2 linked regions of the Homo sapiens genome follow. The protein of the gene in region 2 purifies or fractionates together with the protein of the main gene of each other region. This does not show direct contact. Each region holds a gene or a part of one and is shown on either strand. Other genes may lie near its edges. The genes, in order: ACTR2 and CLEC16A.

Region 1 (16,609 bases), on a different chromosome or scaffold from region 2:
CTTTATTGTTAAGAATATAGTATATAATACATATTATGTTATCAGTAAGGCTTCTGGTCAACAGTAGGCTATTAGAAGTTAAGTATTTTGGGTGGTAGTTAAGTTTGCACGTGAGTAGGGAGGGTTGGTGCCCCTAACCCCTGCATTGCTCATGGGTCAACTGGATCACTCACCTTCTAACAAACCATTTAATTAACTCTGTAACTGCTTATTGTATTAGCCTTTTCAGTCTCCTTCTGCTGGCTCCTCCATAAAAACTTAATTAACTTAATTAACTCACTAAATTAAAAACTTAATTTTTTTGGTCTGTTTTTCCCTGTTAGAATATATACACTCCATGGCAGTAGGATTTTTTGTTTACTGATCTATCCTACTTTCCTACTTAGAATAATGACTAGCATATAGTAGATACTTAATAAGATCTGAAGGAAAACAATTATTTTTATTCTCTTTATCCATAGCAACAGTAAGAAAATTTTTGATTTAACATAATATCACAGAAATACACATATGCATATCCTGCATAAAAACTCACCTCTACAATCTTCTCTCTGTTTTTGGTTGGGTTCATAGGAGGTTCTGTGAGTAAGATTTTACAATTTCTGGTATCTATATTAAGTTTCTCTGGTCCAAATGTGTAGTCCCACAGGTGTTTCATGTCATCCCAATTTCGTACTATGCCATTTTCCATAGGGTAGTTAACTTCTAACATTGATCGTAATTCACTTGCCTCATCACCAACCATAAGATCCTAGAAAATTATGTCAAAGCTGTAGATCAAAGTTTTGCATAATATTTAAGAAAACTTGGGAATAATTAATTTTAATATTTCTGACACTTGCAAAATAAATCTTTTTATTCCACAAGTTAGAAAATCTTTTCTATCAAGAACAATGTCTTAGAAAGTTTAATCATGGATAATACATTTTTACATACAATGTGGTTTAAATCAATAAATTGACCTTACCTTTAACACAAATGTTTCCAAAAGAAGAGCATTAGCACAAATAAACCCCACATTTTCATATTTTGGAGGGTTTTGTATGAGGTTTCATCTGTTTCTTTTGCTCAATTGTTCAAAAAATAAGGCCTGTGATATGTGAAATAGCACATCAGGGGGAAAAAAACTTGTAGAAAAATGCTCAATGCATGCAGCACATTTCTTTGCACTAAATATCAAAATGATAAATGTAAGTACTATAAAGCATAATGAAAGAAGCAAAAAATAAAATGATTCTTTATTACTCTATAATAATGCATACATACACCAACTAATAAATAGCACAAACTTCTATCTACATATGCCTGAATAAGAATTTAAACTGTTTCTACATATGCCTCACCAAGGTGAATGAGAATTTGTAGAGTTATAAAAAATTAAGATATAGGCAAATAACCCATCCTTTAAAATTGTCTCCTGAGCAACATTTTCAATCTTAAAGTATACTGGAAAACTACACCATCACACATGAAGCATAATACTCACAAGTCTTGTCTCCAATGAGAGCATACTTAAGATGACCCACATTTGAAAGTCACATTTTCTATATATAATAAGTAAGGATGTCCTAGCATTTAGACTTATTTTTAGAGAACAGCTAGTCAAGAGGTTAAATAATACTAATTTCTACATATGTTGATAAATTCAATTAAAAAAACTAGTATCAGAAGTAGATATTTGCTACAATACGTTAAGTTTTAATTATGGAGAGACAAAAAAAAGCAGCAGCAAAATTAACACGAGATTATTTTTTTGAGACTGAGTCTCGCTCTACTGCCCAGGCTAGAGCGCAGTGGCATGATCTCAGCTCACTACAACCTCTGCCTCCCAGGTTCAAGCGATTCTCCTGCCTCAGCCTCCTGAGTAGCTGGGATTACAGGCACCTGCCACCACGCCTGGCTAATTTTTGTATTTTTAGTAGAGATGGGGTTTCACCATGTTGGCCAAGCTGGTCTCAAACTCCTGACCTCAAGTAATTCACCCATCTCGGCCTCCCAAAGTGTTGGGATTACAGGCATGAGCCACCACACCTGGCCAACATGAGATGTTTTAAAACAAAGGCTTAAAAATATATGAGTTTTAAATTAAAAAAAAAAGAAAAAGAAAATATCAGAGATGAAACCAAGGTGAGGACTCTAACAAAAAACCAAACAGATCTCTGGAAAATCCACTAAAAGCATCAAAAAGTATAACAAAGTTAAAAACAGATGCTAGAAATGCTCAGTAAAAATTTGTTGCAATTTCTTATGAAGTTCATTTACCATAACTTACTAACTTATTACTCAAATATCTGAAATATTAAATGTTTACACTCTTTTTTTTTTTTTTTTTTGAGATGGGGTCTCACTCTGTCACCCAAGCTGGAGTGCAGTGGTGCCATTATTGCTTACCACAGCCTCAACCTCCCCAGGCTCAGGTGATCCTCCCACCTTAGCCTCCCAAGTAGCTGGGACTACAGGCTACATGCCCAGCTAATTCTTGTATTTTTAGTAGAGACAGGGTTTCACCATGTTGCCCAGGCTGGTCTTGAACTCCTGGGCTCAAGGGATCCGCCCACCTCAGCCTCCCAAAGTGCTAGGATTATAGGCATGAATCACCACACCCAACCGTTTAGATTCTTCTATGAGGAATATGCAAAACTAAAAATCTGTATTTGTGAATTCTAGTTAATAACATGCACATGTTGAAGTATTCAGGGAGAAGTATACTGGTATCTGCAACTTACTTTGAAATCCATCAAAAAACAAGATGCACTGATGAATGAACAGATGAACAGATATGTAATAAATCAGTATGATATATATTAATGTCAGAATCCAGGTGATGGATATACAAGTTTCATTGTAAAATCATTTCAATATTGCTACATTTTCTTAATACTGCTTAATAAAATGTTAGGGGGGAAATCTATACCTGTAATTATATATACCATTTTTGTTACTAACTTTACGTCTTTTTTGTGTGTTGTACAAGATAACAGATTAGATAATTAGATAATATAATCAGTATTATTTCAACCAATTTGAAATAAGTCTGATCTGATTTCAACAGAAATTTACTTTTTATTTAATGTACAAATAGGGGCTTACATTTACATGACCCAATGCCAACTCTAAATAAATGCCTCATGTATCTACTTCTAGGACCACACATACTATAAAGGATTAACTGAAAGAAATGTTTGGAATTGAGTATCCTTACCTTCCTCAGAACAAACAGGACATTTAAAATGGAGTATTAACTTATTTAAGAAGTACAAAGTTTGACTATACAAGCTATCCAATTAAAAAATTTTCATATCGAAAATTTTAATAAAAAAATCCTACTAAGTGTTATATAACTTGCCTTCATCACTCAGAACCAAGTTATAAGTGATCAGATCAGACCTTAGGTTTTAACCACCTGCCCCGCCACTGAACATCACCTATCTGAAACAATGAAAAAAATCACAGTAACTGAGATGCTGTTTCAAAGGTATTTATACTTCATGAAAAGTGGGTAGTAGGGATTACATTTGCCAAGAATCATTTTGAACAATGTCACCTCAAATTAGAATACAGAGTAAACTCAAGTTCAAAAGCACAATTAAATCCCTAGAAGAAAATTCCACTGAAAACATTTGTTTGTTTGTTCAATTAACTAATAGAGGCAGGGTTTTGCTCTGTCACCCAAGCTGGAGTGCAGTGGCCCTGTCATCACCCACTGCAGCCTCAAACTTCTGGGCTCAAGCAATACTCCTGCCTTAACCTCCCAAGTTGCTTGGGAGGCACATATCACTATGCCTGGTTACTTTTTAAAAAACTTTCTATAGAGACAGGGTCTTGCCATGTTGCCCAGGATGGTCTTGAACTCCTGGGCTCAAGCTATCCTCCCACCTCGTCCTGCCAAAGTGCTGGAATTATAGGCATGAAACACCTCACTCGGTCAAAAACTTCTGTTAAAATAAGCCTACACTGTTCTCTACAAGCGCACTCTTTCCTTTTCTTTTCTTTTTTTTGAGATGGAGTCTCACTCTTGCCCAGGCTGGAATGCAGTGGCGTGATCTCGGCTCACTGCAACCTCTGCCTCCCGGGTTCAAGCGATTCTCCTGCCTCAGCTTCCTGAGTAGCTGGAATTACAGGCACACACCACCACACCTGGCTGATTTTTCTATTTTTAGTAGAGATGGGGCTTCACCATGTTCGTCAGGCTGGTCTTGAACTCGTGACCTCGTGATCCACCCGCCTGGGCCTCCCAAAGTGCTGGGAGTACAGGCACAAGCCACCGTGCCCAGCAAGCACACCCTTTTCTTAATCTCATTAGAATATAAACACAAATGTTATGATCTTTTATTTAGGATAAATTTCCTCTTTTAAATGTTTTTGTTTATTCAAAAGAAAACTTCACAAAGTTACTATTACTAGTTAAAATATATATTAGAAGTGCCTGATTTTTGTCAGAGATTCTTACAAACAATATTAAAAACAAACTTGAAAAGTATCTACTACAGAAGCACTTAGACTATCACAGAAAAATACAATGAAGAGTTAAATGTCTGAGATAAGACCAGCAAGCTTATAGTTATAAAGAAAAACACACTGTACAATGTTTGGGGGGGAAATCTGTTGTTTATAGAAAAGCTTTACCTTTTTCTTATTTATCCTCAGATAACGTTGTGAAATCTGCTCATCAGTAAGGATGATATGGAAAGAATTCTCTTTTTCTATCTATGGTTTATTTACATATTAAAATTTTACTCAGTTTATTAAGTACACATATGATACCACACTAGATGCAAATATATATACAGGCTATGACAGTCAATGTTCAATTTAATACTGGTCAATAAAGTGAATTTATTCAAATGTAACAACTTCACTTGAATTTTTTGGATCACACATATCCTATATAAAGCCATCTGGTTTCTAATATTATGCACAACACATTCCATTTTAATTATAACATTCATCTACAAGAAAAACAAGGAAAACAATTCAAAACTATGTTAGTAATTAGTTCTTGTTTGGTCCATTGTACGCAATCAGGAAAGTATAGGACTTAATTAGTTGCTATCAAATTGAAGCAATGAAAAAGGTTAAAAATCAAAGTACTTAAAATAAAAATATGGAAATAACCCCCCCTCCCCAATACTAAAGGGACACAAAACAACAACTACTGTCCCATCAAGCAAAAGTGGAAAACAAACAGAGCATGTGTGTAACCTCACTTACCATCTTTTTGTTATTCTACTTCAACGGGTCAAGAAAGGTGAAGAGAGAGAAGGTAGAAGTAAGAGTCAGAAAAGGCCTAAATAAAATCCTCACTGAAATGTTTAAACATACAAGCAATAGAGACAATTAGGTTGAGGTCAGATGCAGTACTACTATATTTAATGGAGTTAATAATTAGGGCCAAATTAACATGGACAGTTATTCCTGAATGCAAATTAACTCATTAAACGATTTAAATTTCCATTTTTCAGTCTACCACATTTTAGCTAACAAGACACAAAAAGTATAAGTCAAAATACTAAGCACAGGAATTCCAAAAAGTAAGCTTCTTTAATTCATTACTGAACTTAAGAACTTTAATTAAGAAAAATAAATGATAACAGCAAAGGTCTAGCTGAGTAGGCAGAGTGTTAGATAGCTCAGGGTTGTTTTTCCAAGCTCTAGTGTTCAAGTTAAATTTATTTGACACAGGTATCTTTTGCTGTTTTCTACTCGAAGAATAATTTAACTTGATAGGCTTACAAGATTGCACAGAGTGAACAGAATTGAGCCAATAGAATACAGAATGACAAACCATACAAGCAAATGCTGCTAGGGAATTCCTTGGCAAAAATGTTTTATTAGCATACTGACAAATTTGATTTCTATCACTTGGCCTTAAACACGAAGAAAGTGGGCATGAAGAGATGTGTAGTTATTTGTGCCTATGTTGCAAAATAAATTTATGGCTATACATGATATTTCTTCATACCTCAAAAATTTTATTGTCCAGTATATAAAAAAGCCATTCTTTAAAAACCTGACACTGAATAAAAAGTATAGCCTTCAACTTCATTAAACAGTTTATCCTTATCACTATTATTAGCTAATTTCCAGTCAAAGTTCATTTAAGATAGAATTCATTCAGAATGAAAGGAGTTCACAATAAGCAAGTAAGGAATCCCACAAATATTCCAAAAGCTCCTTAAAAAGGAAAAACTTACACTGAGTGTCCCATTTTATTTTTTTTGTTAACAGGAGAGGCCAGAAAAATTCGCTACTTTAACTCTGAAAAAAAAAAACTAACACAGAACCCAAGTTTCAGCTTGTATTTTTATTCATTGTGTAACTCAACTCTCTATCCCAAAAGCAGAAGGCTACATAGCAAATCTCTACCACCCATTACCACCTTCCTACATAAAACAAATGTCCCAAAGAGATACGCCCTAATGCATATTTCAAATGACTCATAACCTTACACTGAAGGCTTGCTAAAGACTATCCAGATAGGACAAACAATGCTAGCGTGTTCACAAATAATTCACTAAAAAAGACCCTAAATTCTATGGCATTCTGTATAACTTGATCCTTCAGTCACCTGAAGAACTTAAAGCCAACTGGTGACTACTGTCCTCTCACTGTTCTCTTTCTTGTCAAATATTGTAACTCCTACTTGATTTCTGATCCCTTTAATATGGGAGAAAAATCGATCGTCTTTTCATGTAGTCTTTCATCTTAAATACAGCGAGTAGGCAATGAAAACTTTCCTTCCTCTTTATGGTAAGATACATAATCCAAGGCCAAATAAAGGCTTGAATGGCTTCCTTCTGCACATTATGGAAATAAGTTATATTAATGAAAAGAGGAATCAATGAGATTTACACCCTGTGTTTTCCTAAATGGCTATATAAAAAAGTAGAGGGATCAGGCCATAAAAACATGAAAAGAAAAAGTCTAAGGTGCCAAAGAGACACTCACATACAATGACAAATATATGGAATTGAAAGACATAAAAATACCAGGCCGATTTCTTTTAAAAATTATATTATGTAATAGGACTTAAGTCACTAACACAGCGTTTCACATTAATGTAATAAACTTAAGTATTTTACTCCAAAGAGTAATGGCATCAAGCCATACATAAACAAAATCAGATGAAATTAACTTCAATTTTTGTGCCCCTGTTCAGGTGTTGATATAAATTAAAAATATGAGAACTTCTACCCTCCCCTTTGCTTTTCATGGCAACATATTTTAAAACTACTTAAAAGAACTGTTAAACTACTTTTATAAGAACACCTCACATGTCTTGATTATCATTTATCAATAAATAAAATATTACCTTGATTTCAATGTTTCCCACTTTGGTGGTTGATCTGATAATAGGTCTTCCAACCAAAGCTGGGAAGATGTGTTCTGGAAAGTTAGAGCCTGCATATCCACACTTCACAAACTGGAATGAAACAGTAAAATAAAAGTGGGTTAGCATCAGGATATTTACTATATTTTAAGACAGCATCTGAAAAATATCACTTTGCATTTATATAACATTTTAAACTTTTGGTGCTTTCAGTCCACCCGAAGTAGCCACTCAATCTATCGCAACATCTCCTTTTAACTTCTTTCACGGCATTGCCTACTTCCAGGGTTCATGTTTATTTACTGCTAAATTAGTGCCTAAGTTCCCTCACTAGACCAAAAGCCTCATAAGAGCAGGGAGCTAAGCTGAGCAGTTCGTGCTGGAATCCAATACCTAACAGAGCTCCTGGCACACAGTGCTCACTCCAGAAGTATCTGTGGGATGGACAAATTCGCTGAACAAATGCTAAGGTTTTTTTTGTTTTTGTTTTGAGACGGAGTTTCACTCTTTTTGCCCAGGCAGAAGTGCAATGGCACAATCTCGGCTCACTGCAACCTCCGCCTCCTGGGTTCAAGTGATTCTCCTGCCTCAGCCTCCCAAGTAGCTGGGATTACAGGCATGCGCCACTAAGCCCAGCTAATTTTGTATTTTTAGTAGAGACGGGGTTTCTCCATGTTGGTCAGGCTGGTCTCAAACTCCCGACCTCAGGTGATCCGCCTGCCTCAGCGTCCCAAAGTGCTGGGATTACAGGCGTGAGCCACCATGCCCGGCAAAATGCTAAGTATTTTTAGAAAGAGAAATGTGAGAAAATGAACAGAACTAAAGCTTCAATTCTAAAGCAGACTTTCATTCATTTTGGGCAAATCGCTTAGAGAATGTCATTTTCCAAAATGGGAAAACCAAGTGTCATTTAAACTAATATCACCGTATTATGAAAAGAAACATTTATTAGGCATTTTTGGCTATTTATTTCTTTGAGACGGAGTTTCACTCTTGTCGCCCAGGCTGGAGTGCAGTGGCGTGATCTCAGCTCACTGCAACCTCTGCCTCCCAGGTCCAAGCAATTCTCCTGCCTTAGCCTCCCAAGTAGCTGGGATTACAGGCACCCACCACCATGCCCAGCTAATTTTTGCATTTTTAGTAGAGACAGGGTTTCACCATGTTGGCCATGCTGGTTTCGAACTCCTGACCTCAGCTGCTCTGCCCACCTCGGCCTCCCAAAGTGCTGGGATTGCAGGCGTTGAGTCACCGCGCCTGGCTAGCTATTTACTTTTTTTTTTTTTTTTTTTAGACAGTCTCGCTCTGTCGCCCAGGGTGGAGTGCAGTGGCGCCATCCCGGCTCACCGCAAGCTCCACCTCCCGGGTTCACGCCATTCTCCTGCCTCAGCATCCCGAGTAGCTGAGACTACAGGCGCCCACCACCATACCCAGCTAATTTTTTGTATTTTTAGTAGAGACGGGGTTTCACTGTGTTAGCCAGGATGGTCTCGATCTCCTGACCTCGTGATCTGCCCGCCTCAGCCTCCCAAAGTGCTGGGATTACAGGCGTGAGCCACCGCGCCTGGCCCTATTTACATTTTTACATTTAGATAAATATATTTAGTAATACCGGGTAACATAATTTCATTCTCTGTGTACTGCTCCGAGAACATATCATTGTGATAAGACTTCCATTTTATACATAAGAAGCTGATATTCTACAGGATTTAACTACAGTAAAACTTGAGAGAATCAAGAGCTTTTAATACTTTTTTAATTTAAAAAATATTTAAAATTTAGAGTTGGGGTCTTGTATGTTGCCTAGGCTGGAGTGCAGTGGCACAACTGCAGCTCACTGTGGCCTCTAACTGCTGGGCTCAAGTGATGCTCCCACCTCAGCCTCCCAAGTAGCTGGGACTACAGGTATGTGCCACCAGGCCCGAATAAGTTTTTATTTTCATTATTATTTTTTGAGACAGAGTCTCACTCTGTCGCCCAGGCTGGAGTGCAGTGGCTCCATCTCAGATCATTGCAAGCTTGGCCTCCACCGCCCCCGCCCACGGGTTCAAGTGATTCTCGTGCCTCAGCCTTCTGAGTAGCTGGGACTACAGGTGTACCTCACCACGCCCAGGTAATTCTTTTTATTTTTAGTAGAGACGGGGTTTCACCATGTTGTCCTCAAACTCCTGACCTCAAGTGGTCCACCTGCCTCGGCCTCCCAAAGTGCTGGGATTACAGGAGTGAGCCACCACGCCTAGCGTAAGTTTTAAAATTTTTTGTAGAGATGGGGTCTCACTATGTTGCACGGGCTGGTCTGGAACTCCTGGCCTCCAATGATCCTCCTGTCTCAGCCTCCTGAGTTGCTGGGATTACAGACATGAGCCACTGTGCCCGGCAGTTACAAATTCTTGTATAGTCTGTTTACGCTGGGCCCAGTGGCTCACACCTGTAATTCCAGCACTTTGGGAGGCTTAGGCAGGTAGATCACTTGAGCCCAGAAGCTCGAGACCAGTATGGGCAACACGGCAAGATTCCCCCCCGGAAAAAATTACAAAAAATTTAAAAATTGGCCAGGCATTGTGGCATGTGCTATAGTCCCAGCTATTCCAGAGACTGAGGTGGGAGGATCACTTGAGCCTGGGAGGTTAAGGCTGCCGTGATCATGTGAGACCCTGTCTCAAAAAACATACAAAAAATAAATAATACATAGTCTAGTAAGAGCAGACATTGCAAGGAAAGGGCAATTAAAAATTTCAGGGTGGGAGGAGGAAGCTATATAAGAAAGGAAATGTAATCATAGTCTGCACCCTCTTTAACAAGCATTTATTTAATGTTAGCTACACTGTGTTTACTGATGAATTCCAACTGCCTAGAACAGCGTCTGGCACATAATAGGTACACAGTAAATGATCAATAAATATTAAAAGTTTTGCTGTTGACTTAACAGTATGATACCATGATTGTTTTAAAATATATTTAATATTCAGAAAAAGTCTGTTTTTCTATGGCTCCAGGCACCACACATTCTTAGAATTAAGGATGAAAAATAGTACCTGAATGTGATACATGACAGTAATAAAACAAAGGTAGACAGAAAAGAGCAATGTACCTCTTGATAGAAGGCTACTATGCACACCACTTGAATCACATGAGGCCAGAAGTTTGAGATCAGCCTGACCAACATGATGGAAACCCATCTCTACTAAAACCAACAAAAATTAGCCAGGTATGGTGGTGCATGCCTGTAATCCCAGTTACTTGGGAGGCTGAGGTATGAGAATCACTTGAACCTGGGAGGCGGAGGTTGCAGTGAGCTGAGATCACGCCACTGCACTCCAGCCTGGGCAACAGAATGAGACCTGTCTCAAAAAAAACAAAACAAAACAAAACAAAACCCAAAAAAACAAAAAACCAACAACAAAAGAAAGCTACTATCTACAAGAAACTCTTTTGTTTAATGCGGTAAAACTTAGCAAGATCTTATGTAGCTCTCCAAAACATAAAAATTTGGTATTTTCAAAGATCTCTACAGCAGCCCTGTTGGAGATGACGCTGATGAACCACATTTAATTATAAATAGCCTAGGACATTCTGCCATCCAGAATTTCACTTGTCTTTTTTTTTTTTTTTGAGATGGAGTCTCGCTCTGTCACCCAGGCTGGAGTGCAGTGACGTCATCGCAGCTCACTGCAACCTCTGCCTCCTAGGTTCCAGCAATTCTGCCTCAGCCTCCCAAGTAGCTGGGACTACAGGCGCCTGCCACCACGCCCAGCTAATTTTTGTATTTTTAGTAGAGACGGGGTTTCACCATGTTGGCCAGGCTGGTCTCTAACTCCTGACCTCATGTAATCCACCAGCCTGGGGCTTACAGGCATAAGCCACCGCACCCGGCCCCACTTAGTCTTTTAAAAACAGAGTTTTTTCAAATATGTTACAGTCATGACAATCAGATTAAAGCTTTTATGAAAAATTCGTCTGAAATGAGGAAAGTTCACACTCCCAATGCCACCTCAATTCCTATCCTTTCACCTCATGTTTACATTTTATTAATAGAAACTACATAAAACATATTATTCAGATGTCTTCTTACAAGCCCACAAACCTAGTCTTAGTTTATATTGAGCCACCAAGGTAAGGGCATTTTTCAGGTACAGCTATCCATTTCTAAAAGTATAATACAATTCTTTTGGATTATTTTATTTTATTTTATTGAGACTGAGTCTCACTCGGTCATCCAGGCTGGAGTGCAGTGGCGTGATCTCGGCTCATTGCAACCTCTGCCTCCTGGGTTCAAGCAATTCTCCTGCCTCAGCCTCCTGAGTAGATGGGATTACAGGCGCTCGCCACTGCACCTGGCTAATTTTTGTATTTTTAGTAGAGAAGGGGTTTCACCAAGTTGGTCAAGATGGTCTCAATCTCCTGACCTCGTGATCCACTCGCCTCAGCCTCTCAAAGTGCTGGGATTACAGGCGTGAGCCACGGCACCCAGCCTGGATTACTTTTTAAGGCAGAAGTTAGCATGATATGATAGCATATGCAATAGATAACCCACTTGCTCACAGCTATTTCCCCTTGGCAGTGGTTGATAGTGATGAACTGGAATACACTTCCCACCCTTAAAATGAACAGAATTCAGGAGTAGTAGTTCATTTTTTCTCAGTGTCTTCTTAAATAATGTGACCTAAGACATGGAGGAAAAACTACCTCAGAGGAAAAGAATAACATCTAGTATTTTTTAGTATTTTCAAACTAAAACATAACACACACACCACGTGCACACACACACACACACACACCTCTCACACACTCTTCTCTCCCAAATCACAAACTCTCTTTTAAGTCAAAATCCAGTTTACTTGATACAAACTTAAATGATATGGAAGAGAATCTGTTCTCATCATTATCCCTATTGTTCCCACATTTCTGTATAACATCTGTCATGATCGCCAGCCTAATGTCAGTCATAATTTACACAAATATCTCAAATATGGGAATTAAATACTATTTTGATATTAAATTATTATGCCTACCTCCAAGTAATAAACAGATATAGTCAAAAGTATCCATTTATCCGGATGAAAATGCTCACTTATATGCGTATAAATTATCTCAAAAAAATTATAGAATGAATGAATGAATGAAAAGAGAACCTACCAGTTTGTAAGGTTCATTTTTGGCATGCTGAATGCAAATAAATAAGTTTACTAAGTGAGAAATCGTAAGAGAAGCTGGAGGTGGCAGGAGGAGCCTGGGATGGAGCATAGGTCTGATCCTAGTGCAGGGAAGAGGCTGCTAAGGTTGACACGTCTCCCCTCTCCTTCAGAGCTACACACACTGGACATACAACATGGCAAAGTGGCAAATAATCACATCACTCAAAGTCTTCCAATTATAATCGTTCAGATGGGTAGTTCGTATCTTAACATTCTTATGAGTATATTTTAAGCAACAAACATTTCCCAAGTTAGAAGACAAAAACTGAAATCCCTGAAACTATAAAAACAACTGTAAACCTACTATTACTGCCTAACAAAAAAAAAGACTTTTCATTCAAATTAAAGATTATCAATCACTTATTAATAAAACTATTCTGCTTGAGCAGTAGTTTATTGGAAGCAGATGTTGCCATAGAACTCAGCACCAGTTTTCATACAGGGTATATATTCATCCATCAAGATAGCAAAAATTGCACTATTTCACATTACTTCAAAAGTGAAAACATTAACAGTTATAATAACAAGAACTAAAATAATTGGCTGGGAATGGTGGCTCACACCTGTAATCTTGGCACTGTAGGAAGCCAAAGTGGGTGGATTGCTTGGGCCCAGGAGTTCGAGACCAGCCTGAAGCTACAGAGCAAAACCCCATTTCTACAAAAAATACAAAAATTAGCCAGGCGTGGTGACACACACCTGTAGCCCCAGAAACTCGGGAGGCTGAGGTGGGAGGATCACCTGAGCCCAGGGAGGTTGAGGCTACGTTGAGCCTTGAGCCATGATTGTACCACTGCACTCCCACCTAGGCAACAGAGTGAGACCCTGTCAGGAAAAAAAAAGGCTGAGTGTGGGGGCTCACACCTGTAATCCCAGCACTTTAGGAGGCCAAGGCAGGAGGATCATTTGAGGTCAGGAGTTCGAAACCAGCCTGGCCAATATGGTGAAACCCCATCTCTACTAAAAGTACAAAATTGGCTGGGCGTGGTGGTGCATGCCTGTAATCCCAGCTACTTGAGAGGCTGGGGCAGAAGAATCACTTGAACCTGGGAGGCGGAGGTTGCAGTGAGCCGAGATAACATGAATACACTCCAGCCTGGGAGACAGAGTGAGACTCTGTCTCAAAAACAATAATAAAATAAAATAATTAAAAAAAAAATTATACTGGCTACTCTGGGCACACTGCCTATGGGGTAGTCCTGCTCTGCAAGAAGCAGTAAAGAAAAAATAAAAATTATAATTTTTAAATTATATTATTTTTTGTGGAGACAGGGGTCTCGCTGTTGCTCAGGATGGTCTTGAACTCCCAGCCTCAAGCAATCCTCCCACCTTTACCTCCCAAAGTGCTGGGATTATAGGCATCAACCACTGTGCCTGGCCCCAATTTTTCAATAATATAAAACTGACAATCTGATTACTTCTGCAAATAATAATAATAATCAGTATTAAAAAAAATCTAGACTGGGCGCAGTGCTCACGCCTATAATCCCAGCACTTTGGGAGGCTGAGGCAGGCAGATCACCTGACGTCAGGAGTTGGAGACCAGCCTGACGAACATGGAGAAACCACATCTCTACTAAAAATACAAAAATTAGCCTGGCGTGGTGGTGCACACCTGTGATCCCAGCTACTGGGGAGGCTGAGGCAGGAGAATTGCTTGAACCCGGGAGATGGAGGCTGCAGTAAGCCAAAATCATGCCACTGCACTCTGGCCTGGGCAACGGAGCAAGACTCTGTCTAAAAAAAAAAAAAAAACTAAACCATGATGTGATAAAATACAAAGAAAACATTCCTTTCTAAACTATCATTTGGTATCATTGGTATCATCTTAATCCTTGAAATTCCTCCCCCATGTCAATCATTTTAAGACTTGGTGACTTCGTTCTTTCATTGTGTGCAGTAAGGCTGTGTTTAAGAAATAGATTTTACCATATATAGTTTCCTCTTCACAGCAGTGTGGTTTAAACTAGTTCCCTTACTTCCCACTGAGTCATCAAATGGTAAGAATATGAACAGTATAATGTTCTTTCAAGCAAAAATGAAAAATTCTATCTACATCTGCTCTAAAAGTACATTTTTTTTTTCTCTTCAAAAAAATAATAACCTGGGATTTATAAAGCCCCATTTGGGCTTATTTAATATTTATTTTCCCCTTACTAATTTTATCTCATGGTACTGATGTTCTTTAGTAAGTTAACTGCACAGTGACTGTTCTGATCTTAGGCCACCAAAATATTTATTCTACTTATACCAAAGCATTTTGCAAGATGAAACCAAATTTGGTTTTGGTTTGTTTCTGTTTCAAACACTCCTAAATTCAACATATAAAGTAGCATAAGCCCGATAAAGCAGGCCACAATCAACTACAAATGTCAATTACATAAATGCAAATGCAATTATTCTAGCACTATAAGCTTCTCTGTACGACTGGACCTTATTAAGCACTGTGCCAGCAACATAGCACGCACTGGAGAAACCTTCATTTTGTTGGTGATCTAACTCAATGCTGATGAAATCACCCTAGTCTGGTAACAAGACACGTAACACCAGGGGCCTGGGCCTAGCTCGTGAAGAGGACCTAAACCTAGAGTTTCACAGACCTCCAGATTTTCACCTATCTGGGCCACTTTAAGTGGCTTGATTTCAGAAGGAGGTTTGAATGGTTAAAATCCACATAAATTATTGGATCAAATGAGTTTTCCTCCTCTGGGCAACCCTACTGAGACACTGGTCAAGCTGGGAGATAGAAAATCAAGCGGGACCAACATTGGTCATGTGATCGTAAGTACAAACTTGTTTCCAGGCAAACTTGTCCAACCCATGGCCCACGGGCTGCATGAGGCCCAACACAAATTCACAAACTTTCTTAAAACATTATGAAATTTTTTTGGTGATTTTTTTAGTTCATCAGCTATTGTTAGTGTATTTCATGTGTGGCCCAAGACAATTCCTCTTCCAATGTGGCCCAGGGAAGCCAAAAGACTGGACACTCCTGTCCTAGAATATTTAATTTGGGTCTGCCAGAGAGGTTAAAAGAATCGTAACTTTTTAAAAAGCCTGTAATTTTATTTTTATTTTTACTAGATATGGGGTCTTGTTATACTAACCCAGGCTAGTCTCAAACTCTTGGCCTCAAGAAATCCTCTCACCTCGGCCTCCCAAAATGCTGGAAATACAGGCATGAGGAACCACACCCAGCCAGCCTACAATTTTAAAACCTAAGGCATGTAAGGAGCAAATGAAAACACCTTAGGATAACAACTATTTCCATAAATTTGCAAAATTACATCTGAATATCTTCTTTAATATTTAATTATAAAGGAATCATTATAACTTCAGGTATCTAAATAAAATCAAGATGATTATTCATGTCTACAAATGGTAAGAAACAGAATACACAATCTAAGCGGTTCCTAGTCCTCTACATACTCAGAACTATTACAGCATTCCTGTTATATGATTCATGTATTTTAACAGCACTGTTTCTTCATTTGAAACCAATCATGTCCATAGAAAATCTGCATAAAATTTTAAAATAACTAGAAGCATAAGAACAGATAAATTTTATTTGAATTAATTACACTCACTTTTTTCATTTATGACAGGAATTGATCACTTGTCTTAAGGAAAAGAATCTTAAAAACATGGATTAGACACAAGACTAATCAATAACATACTACAATCAGCTTTTTTTTTTTTTTGTGACAGTCTCACTCTGTCGCCCAGGCTGGAGTGCAGTGGCGTGATCTTGGCTCACTGCAACCTCTGCCTCCCAGGTACAAGTAATTCTCCTGCCTCAGCCTCCCAAGTAGCTGGGATTTCAGGCATCAGAAACCACACCCGGCTAATTTTTGTATTTTTAGTAGACACGGGGTTTCACCATGATGGCCATGCTGGTCTCAAACTCCTGACCTCAAGTGAACCTCCTACCTCGGCCTCCCAAAGTGCTGGGATTACAGGCATGAGCCACAACGCCCAGCCTAAAATCAGCCTTCTAATGTTAGCTAACTAATGGAATAGTAACATAACATTAGCTTCTGACAGCAGGGTGCAGTGGCTCAAGCCTGTAATCCTAGCACTTTAGGAG
Region 2 (16,609 bases):
AGTAGGGAACATTCTGTCTAGACCAGGGGCATCCCTTGAGGCCCCTCTCTAAGGAGGGCCTATCCTACTGATCTCTGACATTCTGAGACAGGCAGAGCTGCCATGCGAAGTAGCTCAGTCATTGCAGGTTGAGCAATCCAAATCTGAAAATCCAAAATCCAAAACTTTTTGAGTGTCGACATGACACTCAAAGGAAACACACATCGGAGCATTTCAGATTTCGGATTTTTAGATTAGTGAAGCTAAACCAGTAAGTAAGTATAATGCAAATATTCCAAAATTCCCCCAAATCCAAAATTCAAAACACTCATGGTCCCAAGCATCTTGGATAAGGAATATTCAACCTGCACCAATGCCAGCCTTGAAGCAAATGGGATTTAGAGGCAGGAAGGGGAGGTACAGATCTCAGCCTATCTCATGTGAGCTCTGCAGTCTTGCTTTGAGCCTCAGTTTCCTATCTGTGAGGCAGAGCAAGTGATACCAGCTTCCAGGGTGGTCGGGAGGATAGAATTTGTGCATATAAAGTGCCCAACATGGTTAATTCTTCCAAATTATAGCTCACACTTCCAGAAATAGATACAAATTTTTCTGTCTAAAATATGCTTAGAGTTGGAGCCGACAACGTAGTTTTGCCTGGTACCAGTGAGGCCTTAGGTGGCTGCTGTTAGGCCCTTCTTTCAAAAAAAAAAAAAAAAAAAAAATCAGAAAAGGGGAATTCACATTAGCTATGAATTAAAAGTTGGTTCAGCATGGTGGTGGGACTCAGGGTCTGACGCTGGAGGGAGGGTATCTGGTGTGACCTTGGGTAGGCCACTTTCTGACCTGCTGAAAGGGAAAATGGTAACATCTTCCTTCTGAGGGCTATTGGGAAGCTCGAACAAGAATAATGCATAAAGTGCTTAGCAGCTCAATAAATTTTGCTTTATAAAAGGCCTGAGGGTAGGAATCAAATTTCCATAACTCACGGACCCGCCTCACTAACCTGCTGGCCCAAGTCTCTAAGCAGTGAGCTGAAGGCTGGGAAAGGGTTAAGACCGGGCTGGAGAAGCTGGAGGAAGCCCCAGGTCCTTCTTCCTGTGTGACTCCAGAAAGGGTATTTTTTGCCTTGGGGAGCTACAAGGAGAGAACTGGCTCCAGTTTTATAATCAGAAACAAGAAAAATAAGAGGACTAAAAAATTAGTTCCTGGAAAATGCCACCATGAGATGACATTAGCACCTAGGACGTTATTCTCAGGGGAGGTCTGAACTGATGTCTATGAATGAAACATCAATTTTCTTTTTGCCTTTTTGGATGGCGGTCAGAGGCTTTGCGGTCAGCTCAGCTGGCTCATAGCACACTGTCATTTCTGCATTCTTCCTAAGTTACTCAGCTGCCAAGGGCTGCCTCTGGAACCGGCGAGGCTTTTCCACGGAACTATTAAGTGCTCTGGGTCACGTGACTGACCCTGCCGGTTTAGGTGCCTTTGATAAAGATAACACCGGTGAAAAGCAAGGCATGGCCCAGATACTCAGGAGAGTCAAAAAAAAAATTTTTTTTTTTTTTTGAGACAGAGTCTCACTCTGTCACCCAGGCTAGAGTGCAATGGCAAGATCTCAGCTCACTGCAACCTCCACCTCCCGGGTTCAAGTGATTCTCCTGCCTCAGCCTCCCGAGTAGCTGGGACTACAGGTGCCCGCCACCACACTGGGATAATTTTTGTACTTTTAGTAGAGACGAGGTTTCGCCATGTCGGCCAGGCTGGTCTCGAACTCCTGACCTCAGGTGATACAGGGGAGTTAAATATCTACCACAAGACAGCTGGAGCCCCAAACCCAGTAGGAAGCTGGGACAGGAAGTGAATAAAGTCCAGCTTAGCCCTTAAGGGATGAAGTCCAACTTGCCAGCTCACACCCAAACCACCACCAACTGGCACAGGGTACCAGACCTGAATAAGACAGAAATACCCTGGCCTTAGGGGTTTACAGTCTGTTGGGAAAACAAGACTGAACAATTCCTCCAGCCCCATCCTCTGTCCCCCAGCCTCCCATCCACCAATGCATCCATCCGCCCACACATCGGTATTCACTGAGCAACTACTTCATAGGCATCCATGAGCACTGTCAAGGACAAGACAAACGAGGTTCCCCACAACCCTGTACCCACCCCCTGGCCAAGTGCCTTCCATTCTAGTGCAGGATAGTGTCAGAGAACAAGGAATACAAGAGGCAATTTCAGCTAAAGCTAAGGACTATGAAGACCATGGGAAAACGGTCTGGCAATTCCTCAGAAAGTTAGATTGTCACATGACCTACTTTTTACTCCTAGGTATATACCAGAAATAACTGAAAACAAAACAGGCGTTCAAACAAAAGCTTGTGCACGAATGTTCGCAGCAACCCATTCAACAATAGCCAAAAGGCAGACACAGCCCAAATGTGCATTGATGGATGAAGGTGGAAGCAAAACAACGTCTATCCATATAATGCATATTATTCAGCTAAAAGAAGGATAGATGCACCTTGAAAACATGATGCAAACTGAAAGAAGCCAGGCATGAAAGGCCATGGATTGTATGATTGATATGAAATACCCAGACTACGTAAATCTATAGAGACAGAAAGCAGATTAGTGGATGCCAGGGGCTGGATGGGGGCGGGGGCGGGGGGGGTGGGTGGGCGATGACTACTTAATGGCTATGGGGTTTTCTTTTGAGGGGATGGAAATGTTTTGGAACTAGAGGAGAGGATGATGGCACAATCTTGGGAAGGTTCTAAATGCCACTGAATTGTTCACTTTCAAGTGGTTAGTTTTATGTTGTGTTAAATTTCACCTCAATTAAAAACAAGCTGCCGTGCAGAGAACTAGGGTGACCTGGGCACTCAGGGAAGGCCCCTTTTTGAGGTATCGGAGCAGAGCCCTGAGTGCTGAGAAGGAACCAGCCATGCAGAGGGCTCCAGGCGGAGGGAAGCACGAAAACAGAGGCCCTGAAATGGGACGCACTTGGCCCTGGTGAGGCACAGCCAGCCAGCCAGTGCGGCTGAAGGGCTGGATTGTGTCATCTGCAGAGAGCCGAGGGGAGAGAGGGCTGGGAGCTGATCCCAGAAGAGGGCAGGGGCCAGACTGCATGGGACCATGGGCCACAGAGAGGGGCTGGTGACAGGAGGGGCTGGTGGGTTTTAAGGAGAGAGCAGCAGAAGAGGCAGAGAAGTCCCTGTCCCGGAGTTAACAGGCTGGTGGGGAGCGGTTGATGGTAAACCAGGTGGGAACAGGTCACTTTTTTGTCATGTCACTAAGCCCTCATCTGCAAGGGCCAGGAGATGTCAACCTGCCTGGCTGCTCCTCTGAGCTGTGTGCTCTGCCAGCCCTTCCCACACCCACCAACCCACCAGGGTAACACCTGTAAGCAGCTCTGGTTCCCTGCGGCCTCCTGAAGCAGCCTCTGGGCCAGTAGGAGCCCAGAGTGAGGAGCAAGGCTGTTCTGGGAGGCCGTAGCCCCTGACACCCCTGGGTCATTTCTGGGGAACAGCTTCTGCTCTGGGGTCTGCTGGTCCACTTGGAGTTTATGGAAAGGGTGGCCTTGCAGGCGAGTTTTGGACACCCTGCCCATCATGACAGATTCTATCTCTAGAAGCAGCTGTTGCCATGGGCCAGGTCCATGAGGCACTAACCACAGCAACATGGCACTCAAAGCCACAGAGTGCTCAGGCTAGAGTCTAGGCCTGGCCATGCCTGCCCACCCCCACATACTGGCCGCCACTGACCCCCCTCCTTGGCCAGGCGCACGCACAATCCCTCGTGAAGCTGAACATTCTGTGAGGGTGAGAGCCATCAACATAAAACCAGCCAATAAATAGAACTTGTGATTTTTTTTTTCTGAGCCAAATGGAAGAAGAAAAATACACCAAAGTGGCTAGTCACCTATTAGCCCTGATTTATACACTACTTTAATATCTCATCCAAGGAAATGAAAGGCATATTTTCATCAAATACAATCGTTTATAGCTTCTAAAGGGGAGACAAACTGCTCTATGACAATTACCTGGGCCCGCAGATAAAATCGGAAGATGTGTCCTAATAAAACACCCTTGTCTGGCAGCCACCCCGAGGCAGCAGCCAGAGTTGTTTTCTTCCTTGTGAATTATTATCTAGGCAGAAGCAAGGACTCCATGCGCTGTGCGGCCTATGGGGAGGGGCACCATTGTGGAGGGTGGGAAGTGGTCACGCCCCAGCACCCACGGGCCCTTGATGGCAATGGTGACATGTCACAGTATCAGAGGCCAACCTGGGCCAGGTTTCTGATGACCGAATCTCCCTCCACTGCCCGGCTCCCCGTGTCACTACTCTGTGGCTTCTGTAAAACTCTGAGTAGGAGGAGGGTGGTGAAATTCAGTTGATATGCAACCAACCTAAATCTGTCACCTGGGTACATGGTCCTTGGACACACATCTTGCTCGCTTGGTGACAGAAATTTAGCCGAGGGATGCTGCTTAAGGTCTTCTCGGTTCTCAGTTCCTTTGTGTTCCCTTGTCAAAGTTCCATGGACTAAACCACCAAGTATCTAGGGCCCCAGAGGGACTTTCCTTGTCTTCCCGTGTTCAGAGAAGGGAGAAGGCCTTTGATGGGCTCTGTTCCAAGGCTGAGCAGATAACAAATGCAGGCTCATTCTTCACTCAACGATACTAAGTGGGGGCACAGAGCTAGGCGCTGAGATGCAGGGTAAACAGCACAGAAGGTTCCCACGCAGGCAACCCTCTCTGCAGGGGAGAAAGACTATGACCAGGCACACAAAGGCATCAGCCAGGTAAGGAACCTCAGTGCTGTGGATAAACGGAACCAGGCTAGGCTGGGTGCGGTGGCTCACGCCTGTAATCCCAGCACTTTGGGAGGCCGAGACAGGCGGATCACAATGTCAGGAGATCGAGACCATCCTGGCTAACACGGTGAAACCCCATCTCTACTAAAAATACAAAAAATTAACCGGGCGTGGTGGTGGGCGCCTGTAGTACCAGCTACTAGGGAGGCTGAGGCAGGAGAATGGTGTGAACCCGGGAGGCGGAGCTTGCAGTGAGCCAAGACTGTGCCACTGCACCCCAGCCTGGGCGACAGAGAGAGACTCCATCTCAAAAAAAAAAAAAAAAAAGGAACCAGGCCAATGCAGTGGCGGGAGGGGACAACCCTAGCCAGGAGCTGATCTGAAAAGGCCACTGAAGAGGCGGCACACAAACTAAGCCTGAGCCGTTAGCGGGAGGCAGCTACACCAACATCTGGGTACAGACATCCAGTGCAAGGCCCTGGGGCAGGGAAGGCCACAGTGATTTACAGGAGTGGGTCTCAAAGTGTGGTCTGGAAATCCTTGTTTTCATAAAAATAGTAAGACATTTTTCTTTTATGTTCATATTCCCAGGGGTGTACTGAGGAGTTTTCCAGAGGCCACAGAATGCATGCTATCACAACAGACAGAAAACAGAAGCAAAGAGGAGAATCCAGATGTCTTCTATTAAGCCAGGCATTAAAGAGACTTGCAGAAATGTGCAAGATCAATTTTTTTCTATGTTTTGGAAAACAGAGTTATTGTTCATAGAAAACTATGTTAGTTATGCATATATGCAATGGGTTTATTCAAGAAGTATATATTGAAAGCATTTCTTAGTTTTAATTTCTAATGTCATAAATATCTATAAATATAATCTATCTAAATGAAAGCTCTTTAAGTTCTGTAATACTTTTTAAGCAGATAAACACGTGGGTGCTGAGGCTAAAACTCTGAGAAATGCTAGCTTAGAGGAGCAGCAGGGGCTGGCAAGGCTGGGGTTGGGGCTAGAGTGAGCTTGGGGTTGGGGGAACTTCATCTGAGAGGCCAGTTGGGGCCGGATCTCACAGCCACCACCCAAGATCAGAAGGAGAGATGTGGATTTTGTTCTAAGTGCAACAGGAAACTACCAAAAAGCTGGAGGCAGGGGTATGACGTAATCTGATTTAAGTACTAGAATGATCCCACTGGCTGAATGGAAGCTAGGGATCCTGAGAAGGCTTCTGTTGCAATCTTGGGAGATCTGGGAGAGGAGATCTCGGATCTCAGTATTTTCTGGAGGCCAAGCAGGCTGGTGGGTGTGGAAGCAGGGTGAAAAGTTTTAAGAATGATTCCAAAGTGCTGAGTGGCTGCTGCTGTGGGGGACCCTGACTACTGAGATGGGGGTGGGGGCAGCCTATGCTCCCACCATGCCAAGGCTCAGGGATTTCAACTTGCTCTTCAGGACACAGCTCTGGTGCCAAGCCAAGGTGGGAGGGCAGCGAGGCCTCCCTCTTTGCGGGGGTGGTGTGATAAATAAGAATGTCTCCATCTCACTCCTCATAGCTGAGTGGCACTTCCAGGGGCAGTCAGGGGAGACACAGCCAAGGGGTGGATGCTGCCTTCAGCAGCCACCTCTGACTTGCTGTTGTCCCAGTTGGCACAGCCTCACACTTGCTGACCCTGGGACCAGCAACAGGACATGGGGCATCCCAGCTGTGCCAACCACCCCGGCAGGCAGGCCCAGGTTCTGGAGCCGGGCCACACTCCTGGCATTTGATGTTCTCACCCACCGGTGGAAGGCCAGGCAGGGTAGAAGAGGTAAGCAATAAGTCATCCTAAAGCATTCTGCAAACAGAGAAATGATCATGTAGATGCTGAAGAATGGGCCGCTTGGCTCCATGTATTTATTTACATTCTACCTTGTTCCAAAAGGGCTCAGAACAGAAATAAGGCCTGGGCTTTTCTCTTTAACCAGTAAGTTCCGAAACTGAAAGACGCCTCAATGACCCTAAAGAAGTCATTTCTTACCAGGTCAATTTGTACTTAGTTAACTTAGACTCAGTCACACTTTATATTTACTTAGCAATCATAGCCACAGAACACGAAGCAACCTGCAGAATTTTTTAAGCAAAGAATCCTCCTGACCCTGAAACAGGCAGAATCATCTCACATTTCATCACTGAAAACAGGCGGTGCCACAATCAGTCTCTCAGCCTAAGATTATTTTTTTCTTTTCTTTTTGAGACAGGGTCTCACTCTGTTGCCCAGGCTGGAGGGCAATGGTACAATCATAGCTCACTGCAGCGTCAACCTCCTGGGCTCAAGTGACCCTCCCACCTCAGCCTCCTGAGTGTAGCTGAGACCACAGGTGCCCACCACCATGCCTGGCTAATTTTTTATTTATACTAGACACGATGTCTCACTGTGTTGCCCAGGCTGGTCTCAAACTCCTGGGCTCAAGCAATCCGCCTTGTCTTAGCCTCCCAAAGTGCTAGGATTACTGGCATGAGCCGCCATGCCCAGCCCTGAGACTGGATTTAAGAAAGAAACCAATCACAAGCTGTGGGTGGCAGAGTGAATTGGTGTACTGTTTTCTAGAGTTCACGTTGGGACTACATATATCAAGATTAAAAACCTTCCCCTTTGGCAAATTCACTGCTAGGAATTTATCACACAGACATGAGAAATTTGCACAATTACACAAAGACACCCTAAGGATGCTCACTGTGACACTGTAAGAGCAAAACACTGGAAATGACCCAAATACGAAACAGCAAAAAAGATTTTTTTGCCCATCCATATGACAAAATACCATGTAACAGTTAAGGAGAATTAGGTTGATTTATACGTGTTAATGTGTGACACTTTCTATTAAGGAAGAAGTAGCAAGGTGCAGCATCAGACATACGGTATACCCCATGTGTAAAAAACAAACATATGCATGACATACAAAGAAATATTTCTGGAAAGACAGGCAAGAAACTGTTAACAATAGTTACTTCTGAAGCAAAGTAGACTTATTTTTCATTTGATCATCTCCTGTCTGGATTTTAAAAAATCATATGCCTACGGTATATACATATAAATAATGAATTATCAAACAATGAAACTAAAATAAATCACATGGGGGAACCAGGACTCGGGTTTTGAGCAGGTTCCTATGGCTGCGTTTTGTTCTTAAATCAATAACTGCTTTTGAAAACATTTCACAACACTTGCAACTTAAGTTTGAAGCCCTATATGGGGAGGGGTTAAGTTGTGAGGGAGAGCTTGGCCAGCGCTCTAAACTTTTGCAACCAAAAGAAAGGCTCTCTTTCGAGGGATCGGGGTGCATACGGATTTACTTAAAGCAGACATGTCAGAACAGGAAGGGGAGAACTCGGTCTTCTGGAGAAGTGGTCCTTTCCACTCTGACAAATCAGCAATGGACTTTCCATTCAAGTTTCTGTTTTGGGAGGAGCGGAGGAGCAGGGTTAGAGATGAGCTGTGGCAAAAGTGGGAGGAGACGCCCTCATATGGAAGGAGTGGACAGCTGACCTGTGGGCAGCACGGCCTTCTTTTGAAGTCTCACTTCTTCAGGGGGTTGTAACCGGAACCAAACACACTCTCTCTTTCTAGTCATCTTACATGGAGAAGGAAATTACTCTCCCACAACTTCAGCACTAATCATTTAAATGTTTCCAAGAAATTTCCAAGAAAATTCTTAGTCAATTCTGAGAAGTTCTTCCACATACCCAACAAATCTCTGGAAAACCAAACCAAACACTAAAGGGAAAGCCAAAATTTATTTTGGGGGCTGTGTTTAATCTTGCGCTGTGCTTTGACAAATTCTAAGAAGCTGGTGCTGCCAGCCGACGGGGCTTCTGAGAGAGGAAGGGCAGCTCACACAGGCTCCACAGAGAGAAAGACCTTGAACGCCCACCATGATGAACGAGCTGTGGCGCAGGGCGGGGGGCTGGCTCACCTGGCACCTTGTCCACCGATGCAAACACGGAGCGCTGCACTGTGGGGTCGCTGCTGCCCCGGCGCCCCTGGTCGTAGAAGCGGAAAGGCAGGTGCTGAGTGGAGGTGGAGGAGCCGAGTCCAAACCCCAGGACTTCAGTGGTGGGCTGGATTGGGAGGTCCAGGAGGGCTACGGTCAAACAATAGCATGGTTCACTCTGAGCATGTGGGATAGAGGGGGGTGGTGAGAATTTGGGGGGGGGGACATCGTAGTGGCTGTGGCCCTGCCAGGCACATCACTTGGGAGACGCCAAGTGGGCGGCAGGCAGCCTCAAGCTGCAGAGACCAGTGGAACATCAAAGTTCCCACTGAGGCTCAACGCACAAGCGGAAGCCAAGTGAGGGCTTCGGGCCAAGGTTGAGACCAAGGAGAAAGGGGTTTGAGCCTGGGCTCCTCGAGTGGAATGGAAGCTGGGTCAATTTCCACTTTGGATTCTCAGCTTCCATGTGTAAAGGACCCTGACAAAGGCTGTTTCAGACCCCAAGCGAGTGGGGCCGAGTCTGCCCAGAGAGTTCACACGTATACGTGTGTATGTATATCCGCACATGTGCAGGAGCATGCGAAAATATGGATGTGCATGTACATGTGTAACTCTGAGTGGGTGTTTATCTGTCTCAGCCACTAACCTCCCTTCCATAAATAAACCTCCCAATATATCCATACGGAGGGGCTTTTTAAAATCAATTTAAGAAATACCCAAGGCTTTAGTTCTAACAGCCACTTTACAGCATAATTCTCAATTTTCAAATGAAGTATTTGGCCTTCATGCCAGCTGTGAGAAATTGCTTTACATGAAGAAAAAAAAAAAACTCTCTGAAAATAAATCTTAAAAGAAAGGGCTGAATGATTTAAGTCACTTTGCACATTACAGAATGCTTCAGTAATGATTTTGTAGGCCAAGTTTCAGCTAAGTGAGAAATGAGACGGGGACGACAACGTGGGACGCGGGCCTGTGCAAATCAGCACAGTAAATCATCGCATCGGTAACGCCCAGAAACTGGCCCTCTGAGGGTTTATTTTGAGACAGGGTCTCACCCCGTCTCCTAAGATGGAGTGCAGTGGTGCAATCATGGCTCACTGTAACCTCCACCTCCCAGGCTCAAGTGATCCTCCCGCCTCAGCCTCCCGAATAGCTGGGACTACAGGCGTATGCCACCACGCCTGGCTCATTTTTGTAATTTCTTTGTAGAGACAGGGTCTTGCCATGTTTCCCAGGCTGGCCTCGAATTCCTGGGCGCAAGTGAGTTACCCGCCTTGGCCTCCCGAAGTGCTGAGATTACAGACATGAACCACCGTGCCTGGTCAAGGGCTTATTTTAAAGTTATCCCTTGAGAAAGCACCCCCACATCCCCAGGTAGGCTTAAAATCCTCTCAGCAGCCACCAGGATGAGCACTGGTGCCTGAACTGAATGGCACTGGGTATCTTGAGAAAGACTGTCATTTTAGGAGTTGACAGCATGCCTTCCCCCCACGCCGAGGAGAAGGCCTTGCCTTCCTGCCCAATGAACGCATCTCCCTCATTTCTGTGACTTTCCTTGTAATAAATCCTGGCCTTCCTAATACTGGGCAGTGTTGGGCTTCCTCAGAAATTCACCGCAATCCCCGTGAAATGTAAAATGACTTCCTTCCAAGGGTTCCAGCCTTTCACCAAGCAGGGCTGCCTCTTATAAGAACTGGGAAGGGGAAGGAGGAAGGGGTAAGTTTACAGTAGGAAGTTCTGCCTGTGGGTTCTGCCTGTGTGACTTTGGGCAAGTCCCTGAGCCTGTTTCCTTCTCCGTAAAATGGGCAGAGCAGGCCCTACAGAACTCCAGAGTTGTTTTAAGGATCGGAGGTGGTAGAGTAACGTCAAAGCACTTTGTTAACATATGCTTGAGAATTTCAGTGTGAAGGGCTGAGAAGAGTGGTCCCACACTGACGTCTACTTATTGCTGGCCTCCTGCCTGCTAGGGAGAGCTCCTCTTCTCTTCCATGCAGCCCTAGAAACTCACCAGAAACCAAACACCCAGGAAATGGAACTTCCTCGTATTCGTATATAAAACAATTCCTGAATCATACGTGTCTTCTTCTATGCTATGGGGGTTCTCAAGGTCAGTGTGAGAACTACAAACAGCCCTGACCCACCAAGTGCTCAGAGGATGCCCTGCCAGGGTCCAGCCACTCACCAGCTATTCTCTGCATCTTCATGCGCCTTGCCTGGATGCGGCCTTTGGCCAGGCGCTGCTTGGCGATGATGCAGCGGATGTGGTCTGAGAAGATGAAGGTGGCCTGGAGGATGGGGAAGGGCTTGGAATGGGGGCTGGACGCAGGCTTGTGGATGGTGATGTTCAGGGCACGGCTGTCGTCCTCCACGCCAGTCACCTGCATGTCCTGCACAGTGAGAAGCAAAGGAAAAGGCATTCGTTGGGTTTGGGAGGAGGGTGGCTAGGAGCTGTGGCATCATGAGGCATCTAGAAAGAGGTCTCCAAATTCATCTCTGCTTTTGATCTAAGATCGACAGCCTCCCAAGTCCAACAGAGTCATGGATGGGCACAAGGCAGACCAGGCCCAGTGGGAGAGGACAGTGTGGGAGGAGGCACAGAGTACCCCAAAGGAGCGGATGCTGGTGGTGGTGGCTGGTGCCTGTTTTCCATGAGGACTGGGGTCAGCTCATGAATAACAGCGTACCCCCACAAGCCTCTTCAAGGGGCCACAGGTAACACCACAGGCAAACTCTTACTTCTGAGAAGCCAGAGATAATGAACCAAAATTACTATTACCATCTGGCATGATCTCAGATATAGTTGCTCATCTACTCATCAATTTCTTCCTTATTTCTTCTAAGAAGGGGACATCGTTGGCAACCATTTGTATGTCTTTGACAAACTTCTGGTCCCCAAAGGGAAAAGCTAATCCTGAGAAAGGGACAGGGGCTGGGCACGGTGGCTCACGCCTATAATTCCAGCACTTTGGGAGGCCGAAGTGGGTGGAACACGAGGTCAGGAGTTCGAGACCAGCCTGGCCAAGAGGGTGAAACCCAGTCTGTACTAAAAACACAAAAATTAGCCAAGCATGGTGGCGTGCGCTTGTAGTTCCAGCTACTCAGGAGGCTAAGGCAGGAGAATCGCTTGAACCCGGAAGGCAGAGGTTGCAGTGAGCCGAGATCGAACCACTGCACTCCAGCCCGGGCAACAGAATGAGACTCCATCTCAAAAAAAAAAAAAAAAAAAAAAAAAGAAAGGGATAGGGAAGGTCATTGAGCAGAGATTTGAAGGAAACTGTGTTTCAAAGGTGGAGAATAAATGAACATGTAGCAAAATATAATAAAGACAAACCAGTCTAAAACCTCAGAACGGACTCTGCATAGACAATCTACTCCCATGAAGGTTTGAGGTGATCTGATATAAAAGCCTGAGAGGGAATGAACACAAAAGTCAGAAATGTTAAAGGAGGTGGGGACAACATTGGAAAAGGCTCACAGAGGAAGATGGTTGTGGTTCTCAGGCACTACATTTGGCACAGGCTCTTTGGAGATAACACCCCCATCAAAACGCGGCAGTAAGATCAGATGAGGCATTCTGCATTTAAAGCAGGGAGTCTGGTATAGTAAAGACCTGACAAATAGCACCCATTGGAAGACGGCCAAAAAAAAAGGTTTATGTGGCTTTCATTGTCTGATGGAAGACACATATTAATTCTTCAGGGGAGAAAAACACTTGCCTGACACTAAATTCTAAAGGAAATTAATCATAAGCCTAGATAAAGCCTAGATAGATAAGCATAAGTCACTTAATGGATAATGTCTTACATGGAGTGTTTCTTTTAAATGAAAGATTCTTCTATAGTTGTTTCTCACACCACACTTTGTAAAAGACACTTTTACAATAGAAAGATCCTGAAGAAGAGGAGGCTGGGGAAGAGGCTGTAACAGTAGCTTCAAGTATGTGGGTGGTTCTCGCAGAGAGCAGGACACAGACAGCAGGTCAGGCTGCGGCAAGGCAGAGGTGGGGCGGCCTGAGCCAAGGCCCTTCCAGAAACCAGGGCTGGCTGGCAAAGAAATGGACTGCCTTGAAGTAGGGCAAAGTTCAGGCCTGAAGTGTCAGCTGGACATCCAGGGACAAGGGGTATGGCAGAGGGGCGACCTGGGAGGCTGCTTTCAACCCTTCTGATTCTTTGCTTTATTCACTCAAAGAGCTGGTACTAGTTATCTATCACGTTGACAAACTTTTTTTTTTTTTTTTTTTTTTTTTTTTGAGACAGGGTCTCACTCTGCCGCCCAGGCTGGAGTGCAGTGGCACGATCTCAGCTCACTGCATCCTCTGCCTCCTGGGTTCAAGCGATTCTCGTGCCTCAGCCTCCTGGGTAGCTGGGATTACAGGTGCCTGCTATCATGCCCGGCTAATTTTTGTATTTTTAGTAGAGACGGGGTTTCACCATGTTGGCCAGGCTGGTCTCGAACTCCTGACCTCAAGTGATCCACCTGACTTGGCCCCTCAAAGTGCTGGGATTACAGACACGAGCCACCACGTCTGGCCCACGTTGGCAAACATTAAAAACAAAAAAAAACCCAAAAAATCCCCAAAACCCAAGCCCCAGCTTGGTACTTGGCAAGTTAGAGCCTAGCTCTGCTGGGGTGACGTTGAGCGGAAGGGAATTCACAAAAATGCCAGTGGCAACAATCATTTTAGAGTGGTATTTGGCAGTGTCTACTAACACTTAAAATTAGTACACCCCAGCTTCTTGGTATCTGCCTAGGGAAACCTTGCCCAAGTGCATAAAGAAGTAAGAGTGATTCTGTTCATGGCAGCACCGTCTGCTGAAATAGCAGAAAACTGGAAATAGCCGACACGGCATGGGTTAAGTATGCCTTGCTATAGTCACAAAGCAGTGAAAAAGAATACCAGGAAGTCTGCGTGTACTAATGTGGCTGGCTCTCCAAGACACACTATTGATATTGAATGACAAAAGCAAAGTTTAGAACATATTCAATGTGATATCATAAAAAACACACACATACACTCTCAAGTATATGTATATAATTTTTAAAAATAGTACATGTAGTTACATTTATATATGCCTTTGGCAGAAAAACAGATCTGGAAAGGTCACACTGATAATGAAGATTATCTCTGGTGGAGGGGAGGTGTAAGAATCGAGCGTTTTGGTCAAAGAGGACTTTGCTCTTATCTGTGCATTTATGTGGTATTTTAGCTTTTTTTTGGGTGACAATTTGTTCACATATACCTTGTATAATATCACTACAAATTAATGATAAAGATGACAATTGTGTGTGGTGTGTGTGTGTGTGTGTGTGTGTGTGTTTGTAGCCAACTGAGAACAGATCCCAGAGCTCCTGGCCATCTTACCTGCAATAGGCCTGCAAACTTGACCACTCCCCAGCCAAGCCTGGACACATCAGGCTCCACCAAACTCATCTGGTAAATATCCACAGCCAGGAATCGCTGGACCATGCCGCCATCCTTGGTGATCACTGTACATGCAATCAAGTCGCTGTTATCTGGGAGGAGGAAGGTGAGAAGAGAATGAGGCACAGTCTGGCTGCCCAGGGTGATGGAGACACCAAAGCTGACTCTCATTCTATCAGGAGCAGAGCTCAGTGGTTAGAGCCCAGGCCTAGAGTCACACAGACCTAGGTCTGAGTCCCTTCTCTGACAGTTATGCCGGGAAAGTTTCTTTTCCTCTCTGGACCTCAGATCCCTCATCTGGATAATAAAGAGAATGCACACTCCCTCAAACTGCTACTAGTTAGGACTGATATAAAGCATATAAAGTACATAAAGCATCTGTCCAATGTTTACTGCATGTTAGGTGCTCAAGCCGTAGCTTAAAAACAACCAGCATGGCTGGGTGCCGTGGCTCACGCCTGCAATCCCAGCACTTTGGGAGGCCAAGGCAGGTGGATCACCTGGGGTGAAGAGTTCGAGACCAGACTGGCCAACATGGTGAAATCCTGTCTCTACTAAAACTACAAAAGATTAGCTGGGTGTGGTGGTGGGCACCTGTAATCCCAGCTACTTGGGAGGCTGAGGCAGGAGAATTGCTTGTATCTGGGAGGTGGAGGTTGCAGTGAGCCAAGATCGCGCTCTGCACTCCAACCTGGGCAATAAGAGCAAAACTCCGTCTCAAACAAAACAAAACAAAACAACACAACACAAAACAAAACAACAAAACAATCAGCAATCCAAGAAAGAAACTGAAGATGACACAAACAAATGGAGAAACATCCAACGCTCATGGATCAGAAGAAATGATATCGTTAAAGTGACCATGCTACCCAAGGCGAGCTACACATTCAATGCAATTCCTATCAAAATACCAACATCATTTTTCACAGTATTAGAAAAAAAATCCTAAAATTCATATGGCACCAAAAAAGAGCCCAAAGAGCCAGAGCACACCTGAGCAAAAAGAGCAAAGCTAGGCCAGGTGTGATGGCTCACACCTGTAATTCCAGCACTTTGGGAGTCCGAGGAGGGAGGATCGCTTCAGCTCAGGAGTTGGAGACTAGCCTGGGCAACACGGCAAAACCCCATCTCTACAAAAAATGCAAAAAATTAGTTGAGTGTGGTGGCCCACACCTGTAGTCTCAGCCACTCAGGAGGCTCAGGTGGGAGGATGGCTTGAGCCCAGGGTGGTTCAAGGCTGCAATGAGCCATGATCATGCCACTGCACTCCAGCCTGGATGACAGAGACCTGGTCTCAAAACAAACAAAAAAAGAGCAAAGCTGGAAGCATCACACTACCTGACTTCAAATTACAAGGCTGTAATAACCAACACAGCATGGTACTGGTATAAAAATAGACATATAGGCTGGGTGCTGTGGCTCATGCCTGTAATTCCAGCACTCTGGGAGGCCGAGGTGGGCAGATCACTTGACGTCACGACTTACAAGGCCAACTTGGCCAACATGGTGAAACACTGTCTCTACCAAAAAATAAAAAAAATTAGCTGAGCGTGGTGGTGTGTGCCTGTAGTCCCAGCTACTCGGGAGGCTGAGGTGGAGAATCGCTTGAACCTGAGAGGCGAAGTTGCAGTGAGCCAAGATCGCACCACAGCACTTCAGCCTGGGTGACAGAATAAGACCTTGTCTCAAAAAATAACAAAAAGAAAAACACATGGACCAACAGAACAGAATAGAGAGCCCAGAAATAAAGCCACATATTTACAGTCAAGTGATCTTCAATGAAACTGATAAGAACATACGCTGGGGAAAGAACACCATCTTCAATAAATGGTGCTGAGAAAACCGGACAGCCATACGCAGAAGAATGAAACTGGACCCCTCTTTCTCACTGTATACAAAAACCAACTCAAGATAGATTAAAGACTTAAATGTAAGACCCAGAACTATAAAAATCCTAGAAGAAAATCTGGGGAAAACTCTCTGGACATTGGTCTATGCAAAGAATGTATGACTAAGACCTCAAAAGCACAGGCAACAAAGCCAAAAATAGACAAATGGAACTTACTTAAACCAAGAACCTCAGTAACATTTCAGTGCTTCTTTAAAGACTAATGGCAGTTTACAGTTGTGATGGTTAAACTGAGTTCACCTAATTAAGTAAAGACAGTAAAGCAAGAGTCCCCTGAGCCATGACAGAATCACCAAGCCCTCAACTCAGGGTATGACAATTTAAAGCCAAGCCCTGCAGTGGATGTTGTACATGGATGGGCATTGGATGTGTACAGCACTTGGCCCTTCAGAACCAGTTTTCCCATTTGTAAAATGAGAATTAACGTCCCTTATCTTGAATTGTTTGGTGCGTTAAATGAGAAAAGGCGGGAAAAGCATGGGGTCTTGTGCATAGGAGTCCTCTGCATATGCTAGGTTCCTTC

What was found.
Region 1: the proteins of CLEC16A (region 2) and ACTR2 purify together in Homo sapiens (affinity purification with mass spectrometry; 2 studies listed by BioGRID and IntAct, with this or other methods). This does not show direct contact.

What each region holds. Positions count from the first base shown.
Region 1 is NC_000002.12:65,230,666-65,247,274, reverse strand, and holds part of ACTR2 (actin-related protein 2), read right to left. Parts: intron 7,424-16,609; coding exon 7,313-7,423; intron 5,227-7,312; coding exon of another isoform or gene 5,212-5,226; intron 752-5,211; coding exon 536-751; intron 1-535. UniProt on the Homo sapiens protein: ATP-binding component of the Arp2/3 complex, a multiprotein complex that mediates actin polymerization upon stimulation by nucleation-promoting factor (NPF).
Region 2 is NC_000016.10:11,118,275-11,134,883, reverse strand, and holds part of CLEC16A (protein CLEC16A), read right to left. Parts: intron 14,270-16,609; coding exon 14,118-14,269; intron 11,143-14,117; coding exon 10,938-11,142; intron 8,906-10,937; coding exon 8,738-8,905; coding exon of another isoform or gene 8,604-8,737; exon of another isoform or gene 8,540-8,603; intron 5,514-8,539; exon of another isoform or gene 5,386-5,513; intron 4,783-5,385; exon of another isoform or gene 4,668-4,782; intron 1-4,667. UniProt on the Homo sapiens protein: Regulator of mitophagy through the upstream regulation of the RNF41/NRDP1-PRKN pathway. Mitophagy is a selective form of autophagy necessary for mitochondrial quality control.